Linked DNA regions of Homo sapiens: all the other regions are reported to be linked to region 2. The links are microRNA targets in miRTarBase. Many come from high-throughput screens and were not tested one by one. Region 2 holds a microRNA gene; each other region holds the end of a gene's coding sequence.

What was found. The annotated mature microRNA hsa-miR-335-5p reads UCAAGAGCAAUAACGAAAAAUGU and lies in region 2 at 1,800-1,822, opposite strand. An mRNA with a match to its seed (bases 2 to 7 or 8) in the 3' UTR can be bound and repressed. Matches are read on the target gene's strand: a 7mer-m8 pairs with bases 2 to 8, a 7mer-A1 pairs with bases 2 to 7 and ends in A, and an 8mer does both.
Region 1: miRTarBase lists IFT81 as a target of hsa-miR-335-5p. The part of its 3' UTR that is shown has no 7-base or 8-base seed match.
Region 3: the mRNA of INPP5F is a reported target of hsa-miR-335-5p. The part of its 3' UTR that is shown has no 7-base or 8-base seed match.

Annotation. Positions count from the first base shown.
Region 1 is chr12:110,217,394-110,221,631 of GRCh38, forward strand. IFT81 (intraflagellar transport 81) reads left to right here. Exons shown (of 19, transcript NM_014055.4): 19 at 651-1,400. The coding sequence ends at 833. Among named protein-coding and RNA genes, the nearest start is that of ATP2A2, 62 kb to the right of the region's middle.
Region 2 is chr7:130,493,459-130,497,947 of GRCh38, reverse strand. MIR335 (microRNA 335) reads right to left here and starts at 1,837; the gene lies at 1,744-1,837. MEST (mesoderm specific transcript) reads right to left here. Exons shown (of 12, transcript NM_002402.4): 2 at 2,426-2,580; 3 at 713-792; 4 at 1-12.
Region 3 is chr10:119,827,302-119,831,539 of GRCh38, forward strand. It overlaps INPP5F (inositol polyphosphate-5-phosphatase F), which reads left to right. Exons shown (of 20, transcript NM_014937.4): 20 at 1-1,846. The coding sequence ends at 479. MCMBP (minichromosome maintenance complex binding protein) reads right to left here. Exons shown (of 16, transcript NM_001256378.2): 16 at 2,139-4,238. The coding sequence ends at 4,173. Among named protein-coding and RNA genes, the nearest start is that of MCMBP, 43 kb to the right of the region's middle.

The DNA.
Region 1 (4,238 bases), not on the chromosome of region 2:
TGCCTTGCTTACCACTAGAGGAGACAAAACCAGATTAAAACCGAAGTCTTCTGACTTCCAAACTCTACATTCTTCTTTTCACACCATGATACTGTTCCACTTTCCTAACTATCTTTTTCTCTCACTTCCTTTTATAGTTTTGTGTAGTTTTTTTTGTTTGTTTGTTTTTGTTTTTTGTATTTTCTTTGAGACAGAGTCTTGCTCTGTTGCCAAGCTGGAGTGTAGTGGCGTGATCTCGGCTCACTGCAAACTCCGCCTCCCAGGTTCAAGCGATTCTCCTGCCTCAGCCTCCCGAGTAGCTGGGACTACAGGCGCGTGCCCCCATGCCTGGCTAATTTTTTTTTGTATTTTTTTGGAGAACTAGAAAGGCAAACAGTTTGACTTAGTGTTGGATTTAGTAGAGCTCTTGATCTCCTGACCTCATGATCTGCCCACCTCAGCCTCCCAAAGTGCTAGGTTTACAGACATGAGCCACCTCGTCTGGCCTTAGTTAACTTTTATAATCTTAGTTTTGGTACATTATAGAGTATGTGGTTTAGCTAACTATTTTTTATCTACTGTAGAAAACATACCATATTCCTCCGACTATAGCAATAGAAATAAACCCCTGTAACTGAGATTTAATTATTCTTGTTTTTTTTTAATGATAGAAACTTCGGGAAAAACAAAAAGTTATACGAGAAAGTCATGGTCCAAATATGAAACAAGCAAAAATGTGGCGTGATTTGGAACAATTAATGGAATGTAAGAAACAGTGCTTTCTGAAACAACAAAGCCAAACTTCCATTGGTCAGGTAATTCAGGAGGGTGGGGAGGACCGGCTAATACTGTGAATTCTTGTGTCATCGTTTGGGGTTTTACTTGATACCACTAGCTATAAGCCTAATCTCATAATGTATTTCTTTTTTGAAACTGATTTGTATAGCATTTTGTTTTCAGAAGAGCCATTCTTTATTAAGTTTTCATAGAAAATAATGTTAAGGTAGATTTAGTTTGAATGTTTTTTCATATGAAAAAGAGGCTTTTATTCTTTTCCATAGTTTAGACATCACTGGCGTCTTCTGAGTTTTATGAGACAGGAAACTAAGTTTACTATCTGTAAATGTAAACATATGTCCATTAAGAAACATGTAGTTTTTTTTTAGAATGTAATAACCCAGTGGCTTACTGTTTTTCTTAATCTCTTTTAAAAAAACTTTAGAAGAATCTTTTAGGAACTAATATCTCTTGTTCTGAAGAAACATTTATCTGACGTTCAGCAGTTCCTACAGTTTTACTTCAGTTTATTTTTCTTCTGTAAAATGCAAGAAAATTTAATATTTTGACTAACATGTCTTTTCTGTTTGTATCATTTAAAGGCAAATAAACTTGGTACGTATTTCATATCTATTTAAAAAATGTATAGTTGTCTTGTGTCAAAATTTATTCTTTTTAAAGTATTAACATCTAATATTAAATTGAAGGATTATTACTTCTTTTCTTTTCTTTTTTGAGACGGAGTCTCGCTCTTTTGCCTAGGCTGGAGTGCAGTGTCATGATCTCGGCTCACTACAAGCTCCACCTCCCAGGTTCATGCCATACTCCTGCCTCAGCTTCCTGAGTAGCTGGGACTACAGGCACCTGCCACCATGCCCGGCTAACTTTTTGTATTTTTAGTAGAGACAGGGTTTCACCGTGTTAGCCAGGATGGTCTCGATCTCCTGACCTCGTGATCTGCCTGCCTCGGCCTCCCAAAGTGCTGGGATTACAGGCATGAGCCTACACGCCTGGCCACATTATTACTTATTTTCACCAAAAATCTATTACAGACTTTTTTTTCTTTTTTTTGAGGTGGAGTCTCACTCTGTTGCCCAGGCTGGAGTGCAGTGGTGTGATCTCAGCTCACTGCAACCTCTGCTTCCGGGATTCAAGCAATCCTCCTGCCTCCACCTCCCAAGTAGCTGAGATGACAGGCGCCCGCCATCACACCTGGCCAATTTTTGTATTTTTAGTAGCAACAGGGTTTCACCATGTTGACCAGACTGGTCTTGAACTCCCAACCAACATCAGGTGATCTGCCTGCCTCAGCCTCCCAAAGTGTTGGGATTACAAGCATGAGCCACTCATGCCTGGCCTATTACAGATTTAATAATATAATAACCAACCTGGGCACAGTGGCTCATGCCTGTAATTCCACTACTTTGGGAGGCTGAGGCAAGCAGATCATTTGAGGTCAGGGGTTCGAGACCAGCCTGGGCAACATGACAAAACCCTGTCTCTACAAAAAATACAAAAATTAGCCGGGTGTGGTGGCACACCTGTGGTCCCAGCTACTTGGAAGGCTGAGGCTAGAGAATCACTTGAACCTGGGATGTGGAGTTTGCAGTGAGCGAAGATCACGCCACTGTACTCCAGCCTGGGCAATAGAGCAAGACTCTGTCTCAAAAAATAATAATAATAATGTAACAATAATCTGATAGTTGTGGGAACCGTTATTTTATTTCATTTTATTTTTTCTTTGAGACAGTCTCTTGCTCTGTTGCCCAGGCTGGAGTATAGTGGTGCAATCTCAGCTCACTGCAACCTCTGCCTCCCAGATTCAAGCAATTCTCCTGCCTCAGCTTTGCGAATAGCTGGAATTACAGGCATGCACCACCACACCTGGCTAGTTTTTATATTTTTAGTAGAGATGGGGTTTCACCATGTTGGCCAGGCTGGTCTCGAACTCCTAAGCTCAAGTGATCCACCCGCCTCAGCCTCCTAAAGTGCTGGGATTACAGTTACAGGCATGAGCCACCACGCCCAGCCTGATATTTTAAATATAAAAAAATTTTCATAGAATATAGATATCACATATTAAATGTAGCACAAGACTCAAAGTGAAATTCAAGAGTTCAAAGTGCTTCCAATCTCTGCTTCATTTGGACAAGGTACTTGAAGATTTCTTTGGTTTCCCTTAGAAAGATACCAAATTCATGTGCCATGCTTTACTTCATTTCAATTTCAGTACTTTTTCAAAATATCTTGCCTTTAGATTTGAAAACTCAAATTTCGAATTATTAGCATGTCCATCTTAGGCTAGTTCTTTTCAGCTGTCTTTAAAAAAATTTTTTGTTGTTTTTTTTTTTAGAGATGGGATCTTTCTCTGTTGCCCAGGCTGGGAGGCAGTGATATAATCATAGCTCAATGCAGCCTCAAACTTCTGGGGTCAAGTTAGCTGGGACTATAGGCACATGCCACCATGCCTGGCTAATTTTTTTTTTTTTTTTTGGTAGAGATGCCATGTAAGCTGTTTTTGTGTCAGTATAAACAAATACCTGAGGCTGGCTAATTTATAAAGAAAAGAGGTTTAATTGGCTCATGGTTATGCAGGCTGTACAGGAAGCATGGTGATGGCATCTCCTCTTGGCCAGGGCCTCAGGTGAAAGCTTCATGGTGAAAGGGGAACCAGCACATCATATGGAAAGAGCAGGAGCGAGAGGTCAGGGGCAGTTGTCACTCACTGTTAAAGAACCAGATCTTGTGTGAACTCAGAGCTAGAAATCACTAATCACCGCGGGGATGACATTAAGTTATTCACGAGGATCCACCTCCATGATCTAGACACCTCCCACCAGGCCTCACCTCCAACACTGGAGATTACATTTCAACATGAGATTTGGAGGGAACAAACATCCAAACCATATTAGATGGGGTCTCCTTTTGTTGCCCAGGCTAGTCTTGAACTTGTGGCTTCAAGTGATCCTCCCACCTTGGCCTCCCAAAGTGCTAGGATTAGGCATAAGCTACCATACTTGGCCCAAAACTTTTTTTTTTTTGTTTGAGATGGAGTTTCGCTCTTGTTGCCCAAGCTGGAGTGCAATGGCGCAATCTCAGCTCACTGCAACCTCCATCTCCCAGGTTCAAGCCATTCTCCTGCCTCAGCCTCCCAAGTAGCTGGGATTACAGGCATGTACCACCACCAAAAATATTTTTTAAAGAAGAAAATTGTTTCTACCCTGTAAAAAATATGGATCTCTTTGTTCCCATGTGTGTCCTACTCTTAATTTTTGTTTGAAAGGTTTTTTATTGGTAATCAAAGAGCCTCACTAGCTAGAGATAATTGGTAATTCTAGGAGCTGTAGCAAGAAGAGATGGGGTCCATCAGAATAAGGAAGAACTGGACTTACCGGGAAAGTATGGAGAGAAATATCTTTTAAATTTTTATAAGGAAAACAGAAGTATTTCAGTGTTCATAAGTGATTTGAATTGGTCCTCTG
Region 2 (4,489 bases):
ACCTTCCCAAATCTACAAGAAAGAAACGATGATTTGGGCTTTCTGCTCCTGCCCCTCCCTTTCACCAGACCTACAGTTGCACAGGAGCTTCAGCCCTATCTTGGCTTAACAGACTTCCATAAAGAGAAAACGCCATGAAACTACCACAGGTCCCACAGATGATCCTCTTGGAAAATGCTTTATTCCTGGTAATTAATCCCTGTTGAGGGAGGGTAACTTGGCAGTGATCCCTTCCAGAGTGCCAAGGAGTTGTTTATTCCCTTCAGTAAATAAGGAACAGTTCAACATTTAATGTTTTTTTAAAAGCAATTCAAATGTGCAAGAGCCTTCTGGTGCTGACAACAAAATCCTTGAGGTTTTTTAAATTTTTATTAAAAAAAAATTTTTTTTTGAGACAGACTCTCGCTCTGTCACCTAGGCTGAAGTGCAGTGGTGCAATCTCAGCTCACTGCAACCTCTGCCTCCCGGGTTCAAGCGATTCTCCTGCCTCAGCCTCCCAAGTAGCTGGGATTACAGGCTTGTGCCACCATGCCTGGCCAATTTTTATACTTTTAGTAGAGATGGGGTTTTGCCATGTTGGCCTGGCTGGTCTCAAACTCCTGACCTCAGGTCATCCTCCCACCTCAGCCTCCCAAAGTGCTAGGATTTGAGCCCCCGCGCCCGGCCGAGATTTTTTAAGACATAGTAGGACGTAGAAGTCTGACTTCATTACCTTGTACCAGTCGTAGCTGGATGTTGGAAAACCGTGTAAAAGCACAACTATCTCTGGACTTCCAACCACACCCACAGAGTCTAGGAAGAAGGAAAGTACAATCAATTATGCCAAATCCCTATAAAAATAACCTCGAAGATGTTAAAATCTAAGTAATCTGATACAAAGAACAAGCAACTGTGACCAAATTGACATTAAAATGACACAATTATTTGTAAAATGTAAGCTTAACTGCGTTAGGTGAGAACAGGCCTTTTCTCCTTTCAATCTGTATATTAAAACATTGTAAAAATCATGCTATGTGAAAATACTTGAAGGCACCTTGTTTACTTTCACCTAGGTGTTTTTAAACAGCATCTCCCCATTTCTCCTTTTGTTCTGTAATATGCAAATTTTTTCAGTGAAAAGTAAATTTTCAGTTAAAAGCATATGATCACAACACATAAACTACAAATTCTTTGTACTTTATCATGAATGGCCTCACAGAAATTCTCTAAGATACAGCAACTATTCCCAAGGAACACCTTTAGCTTATGCTGTTTGCTCAGCACTTTTTATTCAGCAGGAGACCCAATCTAACATCAAAAACATAATAAAACTATTACAAAATCCTGTCAACTATAAAAAGGGCTTAATCAACATAAACATGAACTTTTTTAATGCATATGACAATATGGAAGCATTCAGCATCATCTAAATTAGGTAAACATTTAGACAATATTAACCTTGCTAATAGTATGGGATTAGAACAGGTATATTCATATACTGCCAGTGACATGAAAATTTGGTAATAAGGTTTTCAAAAATAATTTAGAAGCAGTTAAAAATTGTATATACTTTAGCCTAAGAGTTTTGTTCTTGAGAATCTGTGCAAATAAAATCATTCCATTTATACAAGTAGTATAGTTTGAAAATGTAAGGAAAAAATAAACTGTATGGACATGAAGCTTTTACTTCAACATTAGTTTTCTAAAACAGTAAAACTGGAAGTAACCCAAGCCAACATAATAAAAATTGTATACTTACTTAATTGAATATAGCAAATGAGAGGAGGTCAGGAGCAATAATGAAAAACGGTTTATGACAAACATTTTTCGTTATTGCTCTTGACCCCCGCTCAAAACAAATCATTTCCAATCTGTTTCTCAGTTTCTTCACCTATAAAATGAGGTTAATGGCACCTATCTCCAAATGCTGTTGTAAAGATTAAACAATGAAGGCTGAAAACATAACTCAGTGCCTGGCATATGGTAATTACTTGATAAGTAGTGGTCATAATAATCATCATCACTAGCAAATTAATTTATATAATGGTATCAAGACTTAAATCACAGTTACACTACAAATAATCTACAGAAAAAATGAAATCAGGGATGGTAAGGAGAGAGAACCAATGGTGGTTATATCTATTAATATTTTATATATTACCTGACAGGTTGCTCAAAAAAAAAAAAAAACTAATATTGGAATACATATCAAGCTACAAAGAAAACTTATACTAAAAGGTAAGGTCTGCAGGTTGGAATCTCAGTCCCTACCCCCATTCTCCCAGCAGTTTTCTGCGCTTCTCTGCAAGCACACTACACAGAAAGAGAGAGAGATACTCTCCTCCATCATTAAGGAGCAACAAGAGACCAATAGCCACAAAATAAATACCTCAGCTGGGACTTATGTGACCGATACACGCAGGACTTCCAATAGTCCACTTCTTACCTTGGTAGAAGATACGCAGTCCCTTGTAAGTGAAAAACTTGCCTGAAGACTTCCATGAGTGAAGGGCAGGGGAGAGCTGAGGGGGTGGGATGTGCAGGTACGCAGCAAGCAGGGGCACGGCCAGCAGCCCCACCTGGACCCACCACTCCCTCATCCTGTAGGAAAAGCAGAGACCCACTGTAAGCAGTCAGGTAACATTGTCCACTCATCTACAAACCAAAACCTGGTAAGATGGGGTGGGAGATTGCTGTTACCATGCAATGATTACATTGCCCTTCACATAGGCACAAAGCTGACCGAGACTATAATCAAACCTCTGTCTGCCATAGCACTCACCATATTTGTTCATCATTCTAATCTTAAGGAAAAAAAATACATTATTTCAACATATAATCTTCTGCCTCTGCTCCCCGACTTTAACCCCTTAGCCCCTACCCTTGTGGTCTTCCCAATACCTGCTGAAGAGGACTTTATATAAATAAAAGGGACATGACTTAAATGCTGGACACTCTTTCGTTGACTTTTATCAAGGCTTCCCAGGAAAAAAATAACTTCTTTCTTATTTACTCCAAAAGCTCTACCATCTACCCACTACCCCCAACCAGTAAAATGTTCAAAAAATATATATGTGCTATATCTCATGTTTTAAAGAGTGTGTGTGTGTAGTAACTTATCACATGTCCTCAAGCAGAGAGCTACTCCTGATTTTCAGCCCTCCTGCCTAAATGAAGCCCCATTTAGTACTCCTTTCTGGATTTGGGCTGAGAAACTGCTCAGGGTAAACAGTCTGTGAAAGTAAGATAGCTGCACTGTGTATTCCAACATAAGCAGCTTTGTCATGACCCTGAATATCTAATCTCTTGAGAGGTCAAGGCGGTAGATTACATTTCTGCTTTTCTTAGCAGACTCTTTAAGTTTCCATTTAATTTCCTAAGATGCTCCCCCACCCCCAGATAAGGCATAACTCATACCCAGCGTGTGAGAATTGATTTTGTCTTTGGAAAAAGAGCACTGGTTGGTACACCCAACCCTCCCATGCCCAGGACTTCAAAGGCACAAGTCAGTTTATCCACATTGACAAGGAGTGCCAAACAGGAATTATAAACCGTTCTGTTTCAAGTCTATGACTTCTGATGGTCAACAGATCAAGAATTGTCAGTAGAATGGAAGTTCTCTCAAAACAGCCAGAATGGAAATAATACCCTCCAAAACTAAAATTAGAGTTGTCATAGAGCTGAAATAAATTAATTGCTAAAGCCCTGGGGGAAATGGCTTTCCGTCTGTACACACATTCTTCCCTATTGCCTGTAATCTACCTACCCGTTCGCTAACTTCCTCAACTTACAAGATACTTTTCCCCCCCATATCCCTGATACTTTTTGCTAAAATCTAAAAACAAGCCTGTGGTTTTACAGTGGTAAAATAACCATGTTTCTTAAACAATGTCAGCTCCCCAGGCTATTTTTTAGGCATTATTAGGGCAGTCATTTCTTTTTTTCTCCAAAGTACCTGTCCATAAGACGGATAGAACCATTTGGTCCTACTTCTCAAGGTAATACTAGAAATGGTTCAAAAAAGTGCCAGAACATGATGGTTATATCACAGTTTTCACCCAACAATAGCAGGCTGTATCCCAGTATCTCCTTGAAAGGTCAGATGACAAAAACCATTAGGTTTTGACGATCATTTGCCCAGCCCTATCTGTCCTGTACTTCAATGTATACATTTTCATGTGCAGATTTCATTACTCCTTTCCCCCAGTGCTTCTCATCGCATTCATCCCCGGGGTTCCAGCAGCTGAATCTCTGCAGTGACTCAGCAGAGAGCCCCGGGAGGGGCGGCCAGAGCGGCAAATGGGGAGGCTTCCCCGCCGCTGCTCAGGGAAAGTGGGGGGTTAAAAAACGAGGCTATCGACCAACATACTCCACTCCTGGACACCCCCCTCCACACCCTCCTCCTCTTACTCCAAGAAAGCAAAGAGGCAACCTCTCAGGGGGCCATTTTTTGTCTTATTACCTCAGTAAAAATGCCCCCATGAACTTTTAGGATTTTTAGAAGTGAAGC
Region 3 (4,238 bases), not on the chromosome of region 2:
TATCAGAGACCAGATCTGTGTCTCAGCAGGCTAGTCAGGAAAGAAATCAAATGACCAATCAAGTTTCAAATGAAACCCAATCAGAATCAACAGAACAGACACCTTCTCGGCCATCGCAATTAGATGTCTCTCTTTCTGCAACAGGCCCACAGTTTTTGTCAGTTGAGCCAGCGCATTCAGTTGCATCTCAAAAAACCCCCACCTCCGCTTCCAGCATGCTTGAACTTGAGACAGGGCTTCATGTAACTCCTTCTCCTTCAGAGAGCAGTAGCAGCAGAGCAGTCTCTCCCTTTGCCAAGATTCGAAGTTCCATGGTCCAGGTTGCTAGTATTACCCAAGCTGGATTAACCCATGGGATAAACTTTGCAGTGTCAAAAGTTCAGAAGAGTCCTCCAGAACCTGAAATCATTAATCAAGTCCAGCAAAATGAACTTAAAAAGATGTTTATACAATGCCAGACACGGATAATTCAGATTTAGCTTTTAGCCATAAGAATCCTTCCATGGCTTTTATTTAAAAATATGAAATTTTCACCTCTTGGGGTATTTTAATTGTACTGTCTGAACCCAGGGATCACAAATTCTGTTCATTGGAAAGGGTTTTAAACGGAGTCGGAACCTGAGTAGATTTCCAAATTTTACAGCCAGGACTACAGAAGTGCATCATTCTAGAATGTGTAGACCTGAGTAGCTTATACACTACAGAGCACTTTGCTTATTTGAAAGTAATTCAGCAACAGGTCACTTTGGGATATAACCTGAACCTTTTTTTGGAGTGGGGTGGGTAGACTACAGTAGACACAAGGGCTGGACATGCAGATGCTTAGGGGATTAGCGTTTTTCATAATTTGTTCTGTTTGTCAGTTCATTCCTGTGTGTTCTTACCTCTACAAAGTAAATTACACATTTAGTTTTTAGTGACTTTAACATGTTACTGAAGCATTTGAATATAAAGCTATTTTAGTTTTGATGGCTTAACTGTTCCCTGAGGAGTTGAGGGTTATTGACACTAGAGAAATGAATTCTCATTTGATCCTAATTTTCCCCGTATTCTACTTGAACACATTAAAAATACTCTGCTGCCTATACAATGTAAACCTAGGAGCATTAAGACTTGTCACACAGTAAACCTGATACATCAGAGGTGAATACCAGCACCTATTAGGTTTCATTTTGCTGTTTTCAGGAATGTAAGAACACCCATATTGGCTACTGGAAATTCTAGAAGTCAGTCAGGTTTTAATTTATTCCAGGAGGGGCATCCTCGACATCTTATGTAGATGATCCACAACTTCAAAATTTAGTCTGGGCCTAGTGCAGTGGCTCACACCTATAATCCCAACACTTTGGGAGGCCAGGAGTTTTGAGACCAGCCTGGGAAACATCTGTCTCTACAAAAAAATACAAAAATTAGCTGGGCATAGTGGTGCATGCCTGTGTTTCTAGCTACGCAGGAGGATTGCTTGAGCCCATGAGATTGAGGCTGCAGTGAGCTGTGATCGTGCCACTGACCTCCAGCCTGGGGGACAGAGCAAGACCGTGTCTCAAAAACAATTTAGTCTGAAACACAATTGTGCTGAATCTGTCTGACTATAACTCTGACCACACAGAACCAGGGCTGCCCCTGTAATCCCCACAGTAAGAAAGTTGTATGGCATATTCCAACAAGTATTGGTTCGTCTGGTGTCTTTAGAGCTTTACTCTGTTGAAGTGACTGATTCTCAACTGAACATTATGTCGTTACTTTGATAAGCATTCCACTTTTGTTATTTATTAGTGCTATCTTTTTTTTTTACGTGTTAAATCTTGTGATTATTAAAATAAAGTACCATTGTAATTTAAAGTGACAAATGGGTATGAGAATTCCTTGCATAACAGATTAAAGAATTTGTAAACGGCAGATTTGCTATAACTGAACACTTGGTCTAGCTGTTGCCAGTATGTTACTCCTTTGAAATATACTCATGATGTAAAAAGGGAAATGGATCAGAAACTATACTTTAAATCCAAACATTCAAAACTGAATGCTTGCTTCTACCAACTTTTCTTCCGGGTCCTGAAAATATTAAGGGTTCCCAACATGGGAGAAAATACAACCCAACATTAGGTGATAAAATACACGTTTAAACTCTACAGAAATTAGTTCGAAAGAGATCTTTGAAAAATCATTTTAAGAAGGCAAAGTTCCAAACAGGGTTACACAGGAGTCTACTCAGTTTCCTGGCCATACAGGATTAACGCTGTGCCTTACGTTAGAGCAACAAACTTGACTGTCCGTGTATATATAGGTGAGGGACAAAGGGTTTCTGCAGCCAAGCACTGCACTCCATTCCGCTGCCTGGGCGGGCCTTGAGCAGGAAGGTCCCTCTTGCACCACCTCCTCCACTTCAGTTCAGCTCTCTCATGTCTTCCACCAAGAGGACATGGTCTTTTTCCACACAGATCACATGGGATGGTGAATCTTCTTACTCATGAAAAACAGCCCAAGGTACTGCTAATTTGGGACGTTTTATTTATTGGAAAGGTTCTTTCAAGGGAACTTTTCTGCAAGACCAAGCAATGTATGTATTTTTCTTTGGTAAATTACAATTTACATTGGCACAAAAAACACATGGTGACTAATGTACTTTGCTCTAGGACAATTAAAGAAAATGTATTTTATCCTCACAAATCCAGTGAAGCCTTCATTTTATTTCTAAAAGTTTAAGGAAGGTCTAGTCTACCAGTTATAAAAATGAAAACCAGTTCAACTCTAATATAAACATTATTTACATTTGTTTATAAAAATAGATTTGAGTTTAGGAAAAGTTGAACAACTAGTTATTTTTACTTCAGTTATTAGGTACAATGAATTCCTTGATTTTTCAAGGCTGACCCTGTTTCCTTGGTTAACAATTTCAATTTAGGCCTTATAGGAAAAAACGTAAGGGATCCTTTATCTGCCTCCAACTAGGTAAGTTATTTGATACCACTGACAGCTTAAAAAGTAATGTCCTAACCTTTCTGAAGATTCTGGTTGCCATAACCATGCTACTACAGTCTGTTGTTAGTTTGCTCTATTAAAACTAATTGGTCTGGAGAAAACCTACCTGCAGTTGTACGAGGCTGTTACTGGAGTAGCAGATGTTAGCTGATCTAACATACTTGGAACCAACTGATGATCCCATAAAAAATGCCAAAAATCCAATAGAATCAAAGCAACTCAATGACATTTAAGAAAATAAAAACTTTCTAAAGGGGGTATTGCTTTTTAAGTTTCCTATTTTGTTTTCATATTTGGGCACAGCTTTGTAGCACAGCATTCCCTTATGCATGGTTCTCAAATGCACTGGGATAGGAGAAAATAAAGACAATGTAGTGTCTTGGTTTCTTTTGCCCCCAAAAGCCACATTCATTCCGTTTAAAGGACTCCTCTTATTCAGAGATAGATTGTCCTTTCCTTTTATGAAAAAAATGGTGATAATACAGTGATTTATTCGGATTACTTGGCAAGGTAAATTGGCAACCTTATAGTACCCCAGATTTTTGGAAATATTACTACCGGTCCATAAAATACAAAAGTCTGGGAACCACTGCCATGTACAAGTTTAGTTTTGCAGGCTGTTAACAAATGTTAAGTGGGAAAAAGTTTCTGTGGCCAAACATCTGGGAAATGACAGTACAGAATTTCATGTAGTCATGTGAATCAATGGCAAGTACGCCTCCGTTCCCCAAAGATGGACTACTGAATGCACCCCAACCCACTGTGAACTGGAAAAACAGAGAACTAGAAAACATAAGAAATCCGAAGCACGATTCCTCTGACTTTGAAACTGCAACAACCTTCTTCATTTCAGCATTTCAACAGTCTGGCCTATGACTCAGCTGAAGCTAAGGAAATGGTACAATCAGCAACATTATCAATATTAAACTTTTAATATCAAATACTTTTTTTACATCATTACTAATTTATATAATTATTATAAAACAAACTTCAAAAGCTCCATGAAATCAGTAAGGTAAAAGTCCTTACTGAATATCATATAAACATCAGGTGTTACCAGGCTTGATTTCAGGAAATGTCACTGGTTTGTGATAGAAATTACCTATAAAACAATGTGGTATAAATGAATATCTGAATTTTACAATTATGTGGCTACAGTTTGCCCATTACTCTTCATAGGTATTACATCTTTAAAGTTCATTTCCATTCACACATTTTTGCTGCTGAAGCCTCGTTCTTCTTAAAGACTCTAGCTG